Regions from separate parts of the Homo sapiens genome. Here region 2 is linked to region 1. Evidence: fine-mapped expression QTL. Tissue or cell type: lung. Region 1 holds a variant in brackets; the other region holds the start of a gene. All regions are shown on one strand. Distances are from middle to middle.

The links. PIP is the estimated chance that this variant, and not a neighbour inherited with it, causes the effect.
Region 2: it holds the start of CPED1, and the variant in region 1 is fine-mapped to the expression of CPED1 in lung (TOPMed, PIP above 0.99).

What each region holds. Positions count from the first base shown.
Region 1 is chr7:121,023,936-121,032,125 of GRCh38, forward strand. The region is part of intron 3 of CPED1 (cadherin like and PC-esterase domain containing 1); the gene reads left to right. Among named protein-coding and RNA genes, the nearest start is that of CPED1, 39 kb to the left of the region's middle. The variant C/G (reference allele first, on the strand shown) is at 3,987.
Region 2 is chr7:120,984,348-120,992,537 of GRCh38, forward strand. It overlaps CPED1 (cadherin like and PC-esterase domain containing 1), which reads left to right and starts at 4,364. Exons shown (of 23, transcript NM_024913.5): 1 at 4,364-4,565; 2 at 5,044-5,523. The coding sequence starts at 5,275. RefSeq lists an enhancer at 3,540-3,619.

The DNA.
Region 1 (8,190 bases):
GTTTTTCATTATGCAAGTAATAGGCTTTGGACGGTATCAGAAGTGCTTCTGTACTTTATTTAGTTAATCAAACTGGGGGGAAAAAAGGAATTGAATCAAAGAAACATGTAAGACTGCACTATTCTATTTTACTGGGTTATGACACACAGTAATTGTATGCTCAGGTTTATTGTTATTTTCCTCAGTGCTTATAGATTTACTGATGTATTTACGACCAAACAGAATTCGTTCTTTAATTGGCTCACTGGAGCTCAAGGAATGTTTATTTAACCTTAACTCAGTTGAGTTGTTTAGACTACAGGGACTTCAGTTCAATTTACTTTAATTTTTGAAAAAAATTTTCTTATTTATAAAAGTTGAGCTTAGAGTGACCTCCCCATTCTGATGTTTTCTTTACCCTTCGCTGTGCACAGAGAACAAAAAGCCAGTGTCTCGTTTTTACTCCAAAGAAACTAAACTGCTTCCTTAAATGGGTTAGCTCTTACAACTGAAAATGGCAACCAGATGTTTACCAAAGTCCCTAGCATTGCCCCTTCAAGCCTAGCTTCCTTCTAATTGTTTGATCTTTTTAAGTTTCATAGAAACCAGACTGGGTATTTAAATTGTCTAAAGCTGGGAAATGTTTAAATATAACTTTGAAGATACTTTCTCTGAACTGTCTTGTTAGATGTACTTTCTTTTATTTTTAAGGAAAAATGCAGCATTGAAAATTTGATAAGTAATTTACTTCAGGTCATTGTTCTTTTTGTATGTCTTTAAAATGGAAAAAAGACTATTTTTTGAAAAGAAATTAGACATTTTTGTTTGGTTTTGCCTAAACTGTGCTTTGAATGGCAGATTTAATTTGTAAAAACACATAATATCCGAATTACATTTAGATTGAGGAAAGACTCCAGGAAAGATAAACAAACTCCTTCATACGGGAGCTTTCAAACGACAGTTTGTGGATTAACTAAAAAGGGAGTTTGGAGACTCCAGGTACAGGGTGTTTGCTACGCCAATGCATTATCCAGTTTAGCTGTTTGAAGTATTTTTGACATTTTTCTCAATTTGGGAGGCGTTTGGGAGCTTCTAACTATAGTTCCCAGACTCTTTTAATGATTGTACAACTTTTACTTTCTACTCTCAATATTATAAATATTGTTGAAACCTCCCAACTCACTTCCTTTTTAGACTTGATGTTTCCCAAAATAATTAACATTTTCCCCTGAAGGTCTTTCATCTTTTTTAGCTGAAGTTGCTTCCCTCTTACACTGTCTCTTGGTGGACTTACAAACTACCATTTGGGTAATAAAGCCTTAAGAAAAAGTAGAAATTTTTTCTTAGCAATCTCTCCCCAATTAACTGTCTATAATGACTTTCACCCCCACCTATCTCCTAAAATTGTGCCTTCACAATTTACCAAGAAACTCCTTTTTGTTAGGAAATTCAGTCACTATTAAACTGCAATATTTTTGGTATTAGAATAGATTTGGGCGTGAGTAGAATATCAGTGTTTCTCAAAAGTTATATAAATTCTATTTAAATAATGAATTAAGCATTGATGTGAATTCACTGAGGTAATTTCTCAGTTTCTTTTTTCTTACTCTAGCAGTGTTTCCCAAACTCGATGAAATGCATGAGCCGTAGTGGAATAAACACCTTGCTCGTGGTATGGGTTGGGAGTGTTCTTCCAAACCCTTTTCCCTCTTAACCTCCTGAATGATGCCTTAACCTGCATCTCCCATCTTTCAACCCCTCCTTCTTTGTGTTCTTTCTCCAAATATGGACATTCTCCAAGATATTTATCCCCAGTCATTTTTTTCCTTTTCTTGATACTCCCGTCAAGAATTTTTTGTACTCTGCAAATGCAATATCCCCCTCAGGAGATATAACCTCTAGATAAGGTTGAATCCTATCTAATTTGTCTCCTATGGGCAGAATTTGGAGAGTCAAGATTGTCCAGGTACCTGATAGATGTTTTGATTTGTGTGTCCTACCGCCTCAACATGTATAAAACACAACTGATAGTGCTATCCCGGCAGTATCTATCATTCTTGCCTGACATGTTTCTGTTGCTAGTTCCATATTCCCTCACTCTCTCAGCTCTAAAGCTCATCATCACATCCCCCGTCCCCGTTAGGAGATCACTATGATTTAGGCAGTCTTCCTTAAGCTCTGAGCGATCATTTCTTTCTTAAAAACTTGTTAATTTCAGTGATGCCAACTTTATATTTCCATTGAGCAAATGACAGTGGTATAACTGTCAAAAAAACAAACAAAAAAACAAAAACAGAGGACTTGCTTACTTAGGTGAACTGGAATCTCAAGTTTTCAAGAGAAACTGGCCTGTTCAGGGGTCTACCTGCTTCCTTACAGTTTCAGTTTCTCTTTCCTGAAATCACAACACACATCTGTCACCAAGCCCTGTAAAATGTGCATCTGCTCTGCCATGGCTCCCCTTTCCCTACAGCTGCTTTGCCTCATCCTTGTGCTATCATAGTGGCTATTAAACACTCCCCTATTGTTTTCTGCTAAACAGAACACATATTTCTTAATTAGGCATTCAATACTTCCCCTGCCATGGGGTCAGACACTTCCACATCCCTGCTATAGCCATGGTTCTCAGGCCTGTCCGCACATTCCAATTACTTAAGGAACTTAAAAATTTAAAAAGCCAATGCCCAGGTGACACTCCAGAAAATTAAATCAGAATTTTGGGGGAGGGAGACAGACCAGGACATCATTATTTAAAAAAAAAAAAAAAAAAGTTTCCCAGGTGATACTAATACATGGCTAGGGAGGATAACCATAGTAATTGGCCTGCTCACCTTTGCCTGATCACATTTCAAAGCTTTCTGCCTTGCATTGATGTTGAGGTTTTTGTTTCCTAGAGCTCCCTCCTGTCAGTTCTTTTTTTTTTTTTTTTTTTTTTTGAGACAATCTGGCTTTGTTGCCCAGGCTGGAGTGCAGTGGTGCAACCATGGCTCACTGCAGCCTTGACATCCTGGCCTCAATGGATCCTCCCACCTCAATCCCTGAGTAGCCAGCACTACAGGAGCGTGCCACCAAGCCCAGCTAATTTTTCTTATTTTTTTTTTTTTTTGTAGAGAGGGGAATCTCACTATGTTACCCAGACTGGTGTCGAACTACTGGGCTCAAGCAATTGTCCCGCCTCAGCATCTCAAAGTGCTGGGATTACAGACGTGAACCATCTCGCCTGGCTCTGTCATTTCTTAAAGTTCAAATGAATGTATGAAATCCCCCCTCAATTCTTCTCAAGCTAGAAATGGTGAACAAATTTCCTTAGACCTCATCACACATTATTCATATATCTCTGATGCCTAGGGTATGATTTGTGTCATACTTTTTGATAATTTTTATGTGTTCATCTTATCTCCCCTTTTGTATTATAAACTTCTTGTGAAGCAGGGAGTATTTCATTCATCTATTTATATGGTATTCTGCATAAAACAATGTCGTGCATATACCTAGTAGATACACAATTAAATGTATATGCAATTGAAAAAACAAACCCACAAATACACTAATAAAATAGCTGAATCTCTCCTTCAGATATTCAAGTGCCATTTTCTTCTTTGGACTTTTGGAAAAAAAATTAGTGATCTTCATAAGAAACAGCTCTATGGTACAGCAAAATGAAATGTGCTCAGGGCTGTGTCTCAGCTCAACCAACTGAGGAACAGAACTCACATCCCCCTACCCCTAGTGAAGTCTCTTTGTAACATTCTTTCAGATTTCATCAAACCAGTGACATCTCTGTTGCCAAAGAAAGAATTCCACCAACAAGTTAATTATAACCTTTAGTAATAATAATAATAATAATAATAATAATAATAATAATGAGTTTCAGCTCTTTCTCGAAGGAAAAGTAGGAAAGTCACATGTGAGTCTCACCATTTATACAACAAAATGTTCCATTTAGAGTGGGGAACTCTTGGAATTTAAAAAATCTTGTTTAACATTCCACCTCCTTATCAGAGTCA[C/G]TAAACAAGCGATTAAGGGATGAGGAGAGCAGAGGCGACTCTCGGGGACCTGACTAGCTCTATATTTTATAATTATCAGAAGCTAAATGGAATCCCTGTCTGGATGTTTGCCTGAAAACATAGTTTTGGCAAAGCTCTACCATGGTACCTACTGATTTGCTAGGATGGTGATTTTCAAATTTGGCATGCGTCAGTGTTCTCTGGAAGGCTTGTTAAGTTGCAGACTGCAGATTGCTGGGCCCTACTCACAGTAGATCTGATTCAGTAAGAATGGAGAGGCAGGTTAAAAATTTGGATTTCTAACAAGTTTCCAGGTAATGGTAATATGCTGGTCCTGGGACCACGTGTTGAGAATGACTGTGCTAGTTACTTTTTTATTATGGTTTTTCAGCTTTTCTTACAGAAGCACAAAGAACTTCTGTGTATTTCCTATTTAAGTAGTTAGTAGCCAAACAATTCCTCATTTGCCTTGCCAGGACCCTGAATCAACCTTTCACTTTGGTAAGAAGCCCCACACTGAATTTGCGCAGACGCTGAACCCATTAATTATGAGTTGACTTGCAAAGTATTTGTACATGTTAGCTTCTTTACAGTCAAAGCCAATGATCTCATTTTAAAATGATAGCACAAGCAGCTGAATTTAGACTGTCTTTGGACACACCGAACTTTCTGGAAGAGAGTAGGATCAAGGCAAAAATATGAACACGTTTTATTGCACATAATAATTATAGGCCCCAAACAGAAGCAAGATGATACTGTGGAAAAAACATTGGCCTAGGTTGCATTGTCTATGTGAAACCATGTCTAAATTGCTTAATTTCTCCAGATGCTTTTCATTTGCATAAAATGGATATTTTTGGATTAAATGACCTTTAAGGTCCATTCCATTTGGAAAGTGCAAAAAGAAGTACACTAATGAATGAGAGGGATTACCTGTAAACCACCAACAAAGATAATTAATGTTGGATGTTTCTTTATAAGCTTTTATACATTTTATGCAGTTTTCTAGCTTGCTTTCTTAGCTATTAGTTTAATAGCTAATAATAATAAACCATTTTTAGCTTTATTATTATCAGAAACACATACCATAAAAACTTTGTAAACATTATTTCAATGGCTGTATAAAGTTATATTATATAAATTTATTTAATACTTCCTTAACCTAATTTACCTAATTTTTCCAACATCATTAGATAATTATATTTCCCACTGTTTTGCTGTTGTAAATAATGCAATCATAACATTATTATATGTAAATCTTTGTCCACATTCCTAATTATTTTTAGCATAGATTTCTGAAATTAAAGTTATTGGAATAAAGGGTGAGAATCATTTCTAAAGCTCTTCATTTGTGTTATCAAAATTCTATCTGAAAAGGTTAAGTCATTTCTCATCAGCTGCACAAGAAATTTCCCATAAGAAACAAATCTCTTATTTCAATAAGTGAGGCTGTTTTAAGATTGAGGACTTTACCTGTTGTTCTATGGAAGTATAGAGTGAAATTTCAAATTCATAGTTGTAGTATAAAACTGATGAACTTTCTTCTGGAAAATTGTTATTTGTGTCATATTAGAAATGCTGGGAATGCTGGAATGGCAGGCACGTTCCACAGCTATCTGAAAACTCATCCAGATAGCAAATGTATCAGGAATAATGAGGGTTTACATTTTCATTGGTGTGTTTGCTCAAATATTTCTGTTCATTATTTGTCCACTTTCAGGAGAGATAGCATATTAAGGTTAATCAGCAGCAATTTATTTTGTGTGGTACCTGAAATTTCTACTTTATAATCGTACATGACATGATTACCACATGATAAAATCGATTTTTATTTCTTGTCTTACGGAAAGAAATCCTATTATCTTGTCTTGTCACATTGAGTATTTTTAAGGCACTCTGTCTTATATCAGACATTTTGAATTTTAAAATGATCAATGTCCAGGTTAATTTTATATACATTTTCATATCTGTCTAATTTTTTTTGGCATTTTATAGTGCTTTGAAAGATACAGTGTGTAAAAGACAATTTATGTTTTAGAGAATGATGTTCCTTACCTTGATGCATAGTCTTCCTGTTTATAAAGATGTTACATGTTTATGGTGGAATAGTCAATCAAATACTGGCAAATACAAAAATAAAAGTGAAAATTACTCCAAATTCCAGAGATAACATGGTTAACAATGTTGTGCATATTTCCAGGAATCTTTTTAAGCATCACACATGCACACACAGACACACACACACGATAGACACACACATTTATGTTCTACTCTTTTACCTCCTGCCTCTTTACAAACAGTACATGATAAAAGACTTGCCATATTAACAATTTTAAACAATTAATACATTTTTAAATCAATAGTTTTAAGCTAGCCTTTATTGAGTACAGTATTCCTCCCTTATCCATGGTTTCACTTTCCGTGGTTCCAGTTACCCGTAGTCAACTGCAGTCCAAAAATATTAAATTGAAAACTCTGAAATAAATAATTTGTAAGCTTTAATTGTGCATCATTCTGAGTAGCATGAAGAAATCTCAAGCTGTCTAACTCTGTTCTGCCCCAGGACATGAATCGTCCCTTTGTCTAACATCTCCATGCTGTAGATGCCCCCTACCCTTTGAGTCACTTGGTAGCCTTCTTATTTATCAGATCGACTTTCGTCTCAGTGCTTTACTCAAGTCATCCTTATTTTACTTAATGGCCCCAAAGGGCAAGAGTAGTGATGCTAGTATATTGTTATAATTATTCTATTTTATTATTAGTTATTGTCATTAATCTCTTAATGTGCCTAATTTATAAATTCAGCTTTATCAAAGATATGTATATATAGGAAAAAAATAGTATTTTATAGTGTTTTGTACTATCCATAGTTTCAGGCATCCACTTGAGGGGGGAGGTCTTGAAACATATCTCCTGCAGATAAGGGGGACTACTATATTAATTAAATGCATTGTTCTATGCACTTTATATGTATTAACTAATCTATTTCTCACTTCTAGTCCATAAGGTAGATATTTCTATTTCAAAGATGAATTGAGGTTTAGGCAGTCATATATCCAAAGCAGTTCATGTCATAAATGGTGGAGTTGACGCTTGACCCAAGGGTCAGTTTATCATCAAACCTGAGCTTTTAACCAGAATATCATACAGATTTCCTGCAAGTGTATAGAAAATGCATGCTTCATTCTTTTTAGCATATTATTGTATGCATACACCATATTTTTAAACAAATTCCTTCTTAATAATTAGGTTTTTTCAACTTGTTGCTATAAAATACAACTTTGCTGTGATATTCATTTATATCATATTTTAGAGATTTGAGTTATAATACAAAATTATTGCATCAATGGGTAAAAATATTAAAACTGTGGGCCTGCCTGCCAACTTTTTTCTTTTTTTGTTTTTTTCGAGATGGAGTCTTGCTCTGTTGCCCAGGTTGGAGGGCAGTGGCGTGATCCCAGGTTCAAGCGATTCTCCTGCCTCAGTCTTCTGAGTAGCTGGGATTACAGGTGCCTTCCACCACACCCAGCTAATTTTTGTATTTTTAGTGGAGATGGGGTTTCACCATGTTGGCCAGGCTGGTCTCGAACTCTTAAACTTAAGTAATCCACTCGCCTTGGCCTCCCAAAGTGCTGGAATTATGGGCATGAGCCACCACACTCAGCCAGTCTCTGCCAATTTCTCTACAAAAAGATGGTTTCTGTTTTTGCTTCCACCAACAGTGCTGATACCCTATGTGTCTTCAGTATTAGACATTATCACATGTCTTCAGTATTGGATATTTATCTCATCAGATTAAAAAATGACACAAAATGTCTATTTTTAATAAAAATTTTGATTTTCACATCAGTTGAAAATATATTATTGACTAAATACATTTAAAATAATTTTATTTGTAAAACTTAATACTATGTATATATGAATACACAGTTCATAGAAAAGCAAATTTAAATGACAAAATGAAGAATAGATGCTGAACCTCATAAAAACTTAAGGAAAGATAATTTAAAATATAGTGTATTACTTTATATTCATGAGATTGGCAAAACCTAAAATTAGTGATATCACCTATTGATGGTGAGGATTCTGAGAAAGAAAACTCTCATACATTGCTTGTGGAAATGTGAAATATTATGGCCTTATTTTGGGAAAGCAATCTGGAAATATCTATACAACTTTAAATATACTTTTAAGCCAACAATCT
Region 2 (8,190 bases), 40 kb before region 1:
GGAAAGAATTATTTTGGATTCCTACTGTCTGCAGATAAAGGCTAAATAAACTGTTAAACTTGGAAATGATAGCCCTCCTTGATCTGTACCTAAACGTAACACTCTTTTTCGGCTATATCTCGGTGGTTTCCTACTAAGACATAAGACCTTTATTTTCCCTCTTGCAGTAGTTGAAATCTTTGTGACTTGTTAGGGCCCAGTTGGGAAGTGGTTACTTTTTTCTTATCACCTCTCAAAAGATGTGAACTCCTTATTTTGATTCTCCATGTTGCTTGGAATATATCCATCTTAGTTGTGGCTGGGACTGCTATCTGTTTATCAGCCTTATTTCCTTTTCCTCCTGGGCATGTAACTAGATCTCATTTCACAACTCCATTTCTGTTAGGTGGGTCCATGTGAGTAGGCTCTGGACAATAGAACATGGCACAAGAGGTATATGCCAATTTGAAGCTTGGCCCATAAAAGACCTCCCACAAAATTCACCATGCCCTTTCTCATTCATTGTCTGCTAATGGGAGGCAGAGGATCCCAATGAGTATCCAAGATTCTAGGTTATGGAAAGTCACCAGGTGGAAGGACCTTAGGTACCAAATGTCTTAGAGAAAACTGACAAACACTTAAAAATGTTGTGAGTGAGAAATGAGCTCTTATTGTATCAAGCCAATGAAATTTTATGGTTATTTTTACAGTTATTTGTTTCAGCAGTTATCCTGCTGTGACCCATTCATCAGTGTGTTTCTTATATTTCAGTTGTTCATAGTATTTGTCATATGTCTTCTGTTTTTCCCAGCACCTAGGATGATGTTTCTGCATAGTAGAGATTCAATGTGTCATTCAGGGTTTAAAAACCTCATCTTAAGTTCATAGCTTATGGGGCAAGTTCTAGAGTCAGCATTAGATAAGAGGTGATAGGAGCTGAGAAGAGGGCTGTCAAACTTTCTAGGGAAGAGGGACTGGAAGGTTAGAGACCAGGCATTGCTGATAAGACTTCCAGCACTTAATCCATGACGTCACTGCTAGTAACTACAGCTGGATTTTACCTTATCATAGTCAGATAATATCTTGAAAGGGAAAGGCTGTTCCCTGCAGGAAAGCAACAGAGCCCAGAATCTGAAGACAGAGAGGAAATCCATGTCAAAATGTATCCCTAAAAGCATACATTTTCGTAGCCTAGGGTGACCTTTGAGGTCATCAGTTGATCCCTGAAACTCCTGTTTTATGAGAAAGATGGGACTCAGAGGGATAGAGAGATATATTACTTCCCCAAAGTTCCTAATCCAACACTGGAATTTTATGTTAAGAATATTTTTATTCCCTTAGTTAAAAAAAATTTAAAAAAAATACCTTCTTCAAACAATTATTTGAGTGCATACTTTCCTCTTACACCTACTCCATACCAAAGACCAAATGAAATGTGTGGGAAGGGAGCGTATATTTTGTGTTGGAGAGGTTTGGGGAGAAAGATTGTTCTGTTTTGTCCAAGCTCGAAATGATAGGATCCTGAAAGGCCTGTTAATCTATTGTCCCAGATTAATCTGCTTAAATACAGGCCCTTGAATACTGAAATTATTTAGTGTAAAGTGTACTTTATGAAATTATATGCACAAAAGCATTTAGTCTGAAATACTGCCAGAATCTACAGCCTCGTATTTCTCGTGAATATTTACCCTCTAACCCCATCCCTAAATTAACTTGTTCTCTGTCTTTATTATTCCCTATTTTTTTGTTTGTTTGTTTGTTTTGTTTTGTTGTTTTTGAGACATGGTCTCACTCTGTTGTCCAGGCCAGAGTACAGTGGCACAATCATGGCTCACTGTAGCCTTGACCTCCCTGGGCTCAGGTGATCCTCCTACCTCAGCCTCTTGAGTAGCTAGGACCACAGGCACACACCAACAGGCTTGGCTAATTTTTTGCAGAGATGGAGTTTCGCCATGTTGTCCAGGCTGGTCTGAGACTCCTGGGCTCAAGTGATCCTCCCGCCTTGGCCTCCCAAAGTGCTGGGATTACAGGTGAGCGACATCGCAACCGGCCTCATTCACTCTTCTGACTCCTTCAAGCTCTGTCATTCCATTCGAATGTGTGTAACCTACTGCTCAGGTGTAAATACCTCTCAGGTAGAGTCTCCACATGCTGCTTTCATGCCACCCTTGCCCTTGTCCTCCCAAACCAGCATCTGCTGGTGGGTGCACTTCTATCTCAAAGAGGGAAAGGAAGAGAACTAAGAGCTCATGTTTGCTTTTGGTGTCTAGATGTTCCACGGGACTCATTATTTGATAATTATCTTTTTACGTGTCTGACACCACATCTCCCATAAACTCAGTGAGGAAGGAGCACAGCCTCAGGATTCAAACCTTAACATACATGCATTCAGCATTCATTTATCCAGCAAATACAGAATGCTTAGTTGCTTTCCATATATTATCTCAACTAGTTGTACCAACAACACTTCAAAGGAAACATTAGTATCCTTATATCACGAATGAGGAAAGCTGAGACTTTGGTCAAACCACTTGTTTAAGAACAGCTGATAAAAGGCAGTGCCATGAATCATATCCAGATTGGGTTTACTCTAAAATCAGATGCTTGTGTATCGCCTTAGTCTATTTGGTGATAATTCCTGCTATATCTCCTTTCCACCTCTTGTTTGCACCTTCTCAAGCTACCTCTTTTCTCTCTCTTGCAAATATTTCCTTACTGCTTTCTTCCACTCCCTTGGACTCAGTGGTTAAAATGGGAAATGGGGTTCTTTAATCTACTAGAATCATTTCTGGGATACTAATTTTCCACCTTCTTCCCAATTCCCATTATTTGAAGTCTAGCTATATTATCTTAAAATTTTCAATACTGTTGTCTTTCATTTCTCCCAACCGAATGGCAATTTTATTTTAGCATCTGATTTACTTTCTTCTGTACCTTGTTCTCAACAATTTAATAAAGCATAAGAATGACTCTTTAGATTCCCCAAACTCTGTTTTTCAGACTTCTTGCCTTAACAGAACTTAATAGAACTGTCTGCCTATTCCTTATCACTCAGTAACAGCATTGTCACACCCTGGATTCCAATTTAGAAATCTCACAATTCTTATTATCTCTCAAATCACATTGCATCCACCAAAACGATATGTCCTACAACACCACTGTTCAGCCATTTTCTCTTAAAACTCTTTTGGCTTCTAAAAGTGAAGCATCACTTTATTTTTCTCTATCCCATTTGTCATAAGATTAAGGACTCTGAACCTATACATAAAATAATATTAAAGCCACTGGAGGCGATACATGCAAGGGCTTGGGATAAATCCAGCTTCCGTGTGAATATTTCTTCTGTAATGTGTTAATTAATTTGTTCTATAGGATGTTAAAAGGGTTTCTTTCTCACAAGCAAGGAACTCTAGATGCCCATTTCTCTGAATCTGTGCTAGCTGGGCACCCCTAGGGGGCGCTCCGTCTCTCAAAATACAAGGGGCTGACAGCAGCGTGCCTCTGGGTGAGGCTCACTCTAGGGGTGTGGCCTCACGGAGAACCTCAACCCACAAGAGTTTGGCTTAGAAACAAGTTTGAAAACCTCTTCAGGTCCAGAGCCTTTAAATAATGCCTGCTATGCGCTAAGACAGCCCTGGGTATCCAGAGTTCACAAAGCAAGGACTGATTTCCTTTCGCCTTGACAGCCTCAGCAAAAGTGGAAGGGGGTTTGCAGAATTGCACTATTAGCAGCGTCCACCCGAAGGTCTGCACAGAATTAGACTGAGCTGATTCTGGACAAAGCCCACTGTGTACCTTTATCTACTGGGCAAAAGTTACCCCCAACACCTGCTATAATCGACTCATTTTAGGAGCAAAATGTCAGGCCATGAAGCATCAGATCATTGAAAGACCCAATTAATTAGTCCAGGAAAGGAGTAATAAGAACATCTGTGATCTGAGTTCCATACTAAGACACAGAGAGACGACTGAGTTATTCTGGTGCTTGCTGTCTGAGGTCCAGACAGTACTTGTGACCCTCTTATCCTCAGAAGAGTAACCACAATTCCCTGGAGTGAAGAATATCCCAATTCACTCATGGAGTTCACTTTAGTCTCATTCTCGACCTTTGTCACCAATTGGCTAAGGCTATTTGTTTTTCCAATTCTGTATTAGGAAAAAGAAGTTGCACAGAGGATCAGACATCAGATACGTTTCTAAATTCTGCAGCTCTGGGTGGGCAGCCTCATTTGGGGAAATGCTAGCTGCTGTTTCCAAAGTGGGGAAGCCCACGGTTTCGGACACAGGGCTGACAGCGCTGCTCCAGCAGCCCCCAGGGCCAGAGGAACCCGGCCTTAGCTCCGCCCCGCTCTGCCCGGCCCCGGGTGGCTGCGATGCCGAGGTCCTCTGCTCCCGCCGGGCGTGCAGCGGGCGCGCGCGCGTGTGTTTATGTGTCTGTGTGCGTGTGTGTGTGTGTCTCTCTCTGTGTGTGTGTGAGATGAATTGGAGTCATACGACTGGGTGTTTCCTTCCGAGTGGTTTTCATCAGCAATCCATTAGGAAATCATGGAAACTTTTTTTTTCCTGGCTAAAAGGATGAAAACTGAGTAAGTACATAGAACTTTGAACTTGAGACGGAATGAAACAAATTCAAGCAAAAACCCTGACAGTAACCATGTCCATTCAAATTGCGTATGCCCTTTTTATGTTAAAAGCCGTGAATACTTACAGGACAGTGGGAATTTAAAACTAAATGAAGGGAAGCATACAAAAGGCTGAAAGCAAGACTGCTTTAAAACCGGAGGAAAATTGAGGAACTGCTAAGGCAACCTGGCCTGAGTTCAGCTGTGCAACAGGCACTTTGGGTTTTAATCTTTTGCGTTCTTCAATGCTGTTTTCAGACTCCAGATATACTTTGGTATTGTTTTCTCTCTTCCTGCAAAGCTGAGGCAGAGTCGGACTCCTTTACTGTGAGTTGAAAGATGTGAGAATAAGGCATTGCTGGAAGCAACAGTTTGGCAGCCTGGGGTACACTCAGGTTATTCGTTACAACTATTATTATTTGATGTCTTTTTTTAAACTCAGGTCATCCACTTTTGACTGTCATCCATGGAAGAGCTCTTATTAAAAGCCTCAGACTTTCGGGACCTATGATTCTTTGGCACAACCTTTTGGAAAATTCTTAAGCAGGGATGAAGCAAACTTGATTGGAGTTGGGGAAAAAGAAGACAGATTAGTATTTTTCATGCTGACAAAAAATAGCTGCTATGACTTTTCCCGCAACGTGGACAGGGGCCAAGTGAAGCTGAACTGGTCATGGTCTGTCGCCCAGTGTTCCCTTGTCGTCGGCGATTTTGCCCCCGACCCTTCTTGGTGGGCTTAGTGGTGGCAATCTGTCTCTTCTACCAGACTCTGACCCTCCGAGGGTCGAGGAAGCTCACAGCCGCTGCCCCTGGGGCTGTCCCACACACATCCACTGAAACCCAGGCAAGCAGATGCAAGAAAGGATTCTCTCAGGACAAACAGTGCTTCCTTCTCTCTGGTAATGCCCAGGAAACCAGAAAGGTAAGACTCTCATAAGCTTAACGGAGACAGTTTCTGCAAAGACAGCAATCTGCTTCTCTGTCCTTTCTATAAAACTAAAATTAACTTCCATGAGGTCTGAAAGGGATCCAGAGTGTAAACAGCCTAGAGAGTGACCTGATGACTGGGAAACACGTTACATAAGCTTCAACTTCTTATAGTTACTTCCAGAAAGTTCTGGCATTACTTTATCTCTTAGGATTTCACTTCATTTCAGTGGAATGAAGTAGACAGTTTGGAGGAGGCATAAAATGATGTGGATTCTTTCTAAAATATCAGTATTCTAAGAGATCTGAGGATTTACAATTCAAAAACATAAATCAAAGTTTCAAAAACTTTGATAAACCTTGAGTGTCTCTTTTCTCAAGGCAGTCAGTATGAGTGCCCAGACCATTCCAGACTCAAAGATTCTCCAAAGTTTCATTTTGTAACTAGCTAGATTGATTCTTAATTGGTGACCACATTTCTAAAGCAATATATTTACTTCGAAAGCATTAAAATAATAGGATAATAGGTTTCTTCAAAAGAATTGATACAATGTATTTTATTGTTTATAGGATCAGGGAAATACAGATTATTCTATATTTATACTATTCAGATAAACTTACTAATCTTACTTGTCAAATATTGAAAAAAAACACAAAAAGCACACAAAGTAACACAGGATTTCTATTTTAATATACCACTCTCCTCATGCCTATCAGTAATATAATGACCTGTAACATAGTCAAGTGTAAAACAGAACATGAAGAAATAAAAAAAAATCCATGCAAAAAAGATCATGGTGGCAAAGCTACTAAATTTTATGTTACAACAAGTAGTATTGTAGCAACAAAATAGAGGGCTCTGTAAGTAGCATCTTATATCTACAGTAGATTCTGGTCGATCTTATGATGCCGGTTACCGTTTGAAGTAGAATTTCTACTTGAACACCAGCTCCGTTGCTACCATTATTACCAAAACCTCCACGATTGACCAGCACCACTTCTTTTAAAAACTCTTTTATTTATTTCGTTTCAGACTACTGCCCTGTGAGACAGGTACAGTAGATAGGATTATTAGCATTTTATGAACAAGGAGCCTGACAGTGCCATTTAGGTAGGTCACATGGTTAGCATTATGACAAGATGCATCCCCAGAGCAATAGCTATCAAGCTGCTTGGTTCCTACTGCAGGGCTGATGCTCCAAATAAAAGTCAATTCAAAGCCCTTGTAATAATTTTTGAAACCACAACTACAAGAACTTACTGAAATACAAAATAACATTAAGTTAAAACAAGGAAAATTTTAAACTTTTAAGTGACTTCATTTGTTATCCGTAATGCCAGGAAACATCCTGACCAAGAACTATCTTATGACAAAGAATAGTAGATAATATAAGTTGAAACACTTTAAAATGAAACTGCAACTGAAATTGTACATCTATTTTTAGGCACAGTAAAGTTATTGAAGAATGTGTATTTTTGTTGTTGTTGTTCATTTATACTAGCATTAACTTTTTTCTTTTCCTGACTACATCACAGTTACAATGGATGTAAACTGTGACTGTTAAAGTCATTTCTTGTTAGTTTCAACATTGAGAAAGGCAATTTCTTAAAAAATAGTTGAGATAGTCTTGCTCTTATTTAATGCCTAAAATTTTTGCTAGGAATTTTGAATGAAAAGGTTTTATTCATGAACTTACAGCTTTCTTACTCCCCTTGTTCACTCTGTGTGATTCCTACTTTGTTTGTAATTTAGGCATATGTTAGCTGTTATTTGTGGGCTGTCATAGAAAATTCGATTTCAACTTTGAATCTCCTACTACTTATAAACCATCTGAAACTTACTGGCTCCTGGTGTAAAACATTCACTTGAGAATTTTCTTCACCAAAAATGCCAAACACATGATGAATTTCGTTTAAAAATGATTCACAGTCTTAAGTATTTTAACTGTAAGCAAGATTCTAAATTTACAATTATAGTTCAGGAGCCCAGTGGATATGGAAAGTAGATTTCCAAACATTAGCCATGTCACTCCATTTTTAACCTATGCCAGCCCCTGGATTAAAGCCACTTTTTATTTGAGACAGAAAGGAAGTGAGAAAGAAAGTATCATACACATGTTAATTAAAACCAGATACAAATTAATTCTACTTATAGTATATGTTTTGAAAAAAGAGTCAAATCATACTCCAATTTAAATTATTAGATACTCTTTCAGATGGCTAAAATGAAGAGAGAAAGCTTTTGGGATCAATATATTGATCATTTTCTAAAGTAACTACTTGTGAAGTTCATTTAAAAAAACTGATTAGATGCTATATAGGTTTCCTGAAAACCTAGAATTAGCTTTGAGGCATTTTATAGAAGTAGCATTGTTTCTATCTGTAAATTTTGGATTTTGTTATTACTTTTATTTAGTCAAATCTTAGTCAAATCTTTGCTTTAAGTGTTTTTAAAAGTTACTTAAACCAGCTGATTTTGACCTAGGGTTCATGGATTCCAGAATGTATTTAGATGTATGAAATGTATACATCCATGACATTTTATGCAAAATACTGTAATGTAGGTGTATGTGAAGATCTTTGGGGGGAAAATTATAGATTTATGTCAGATATTCAGAACTAAAAACATGCTAAGAACCACTACAAATGCTTAACAACCAGT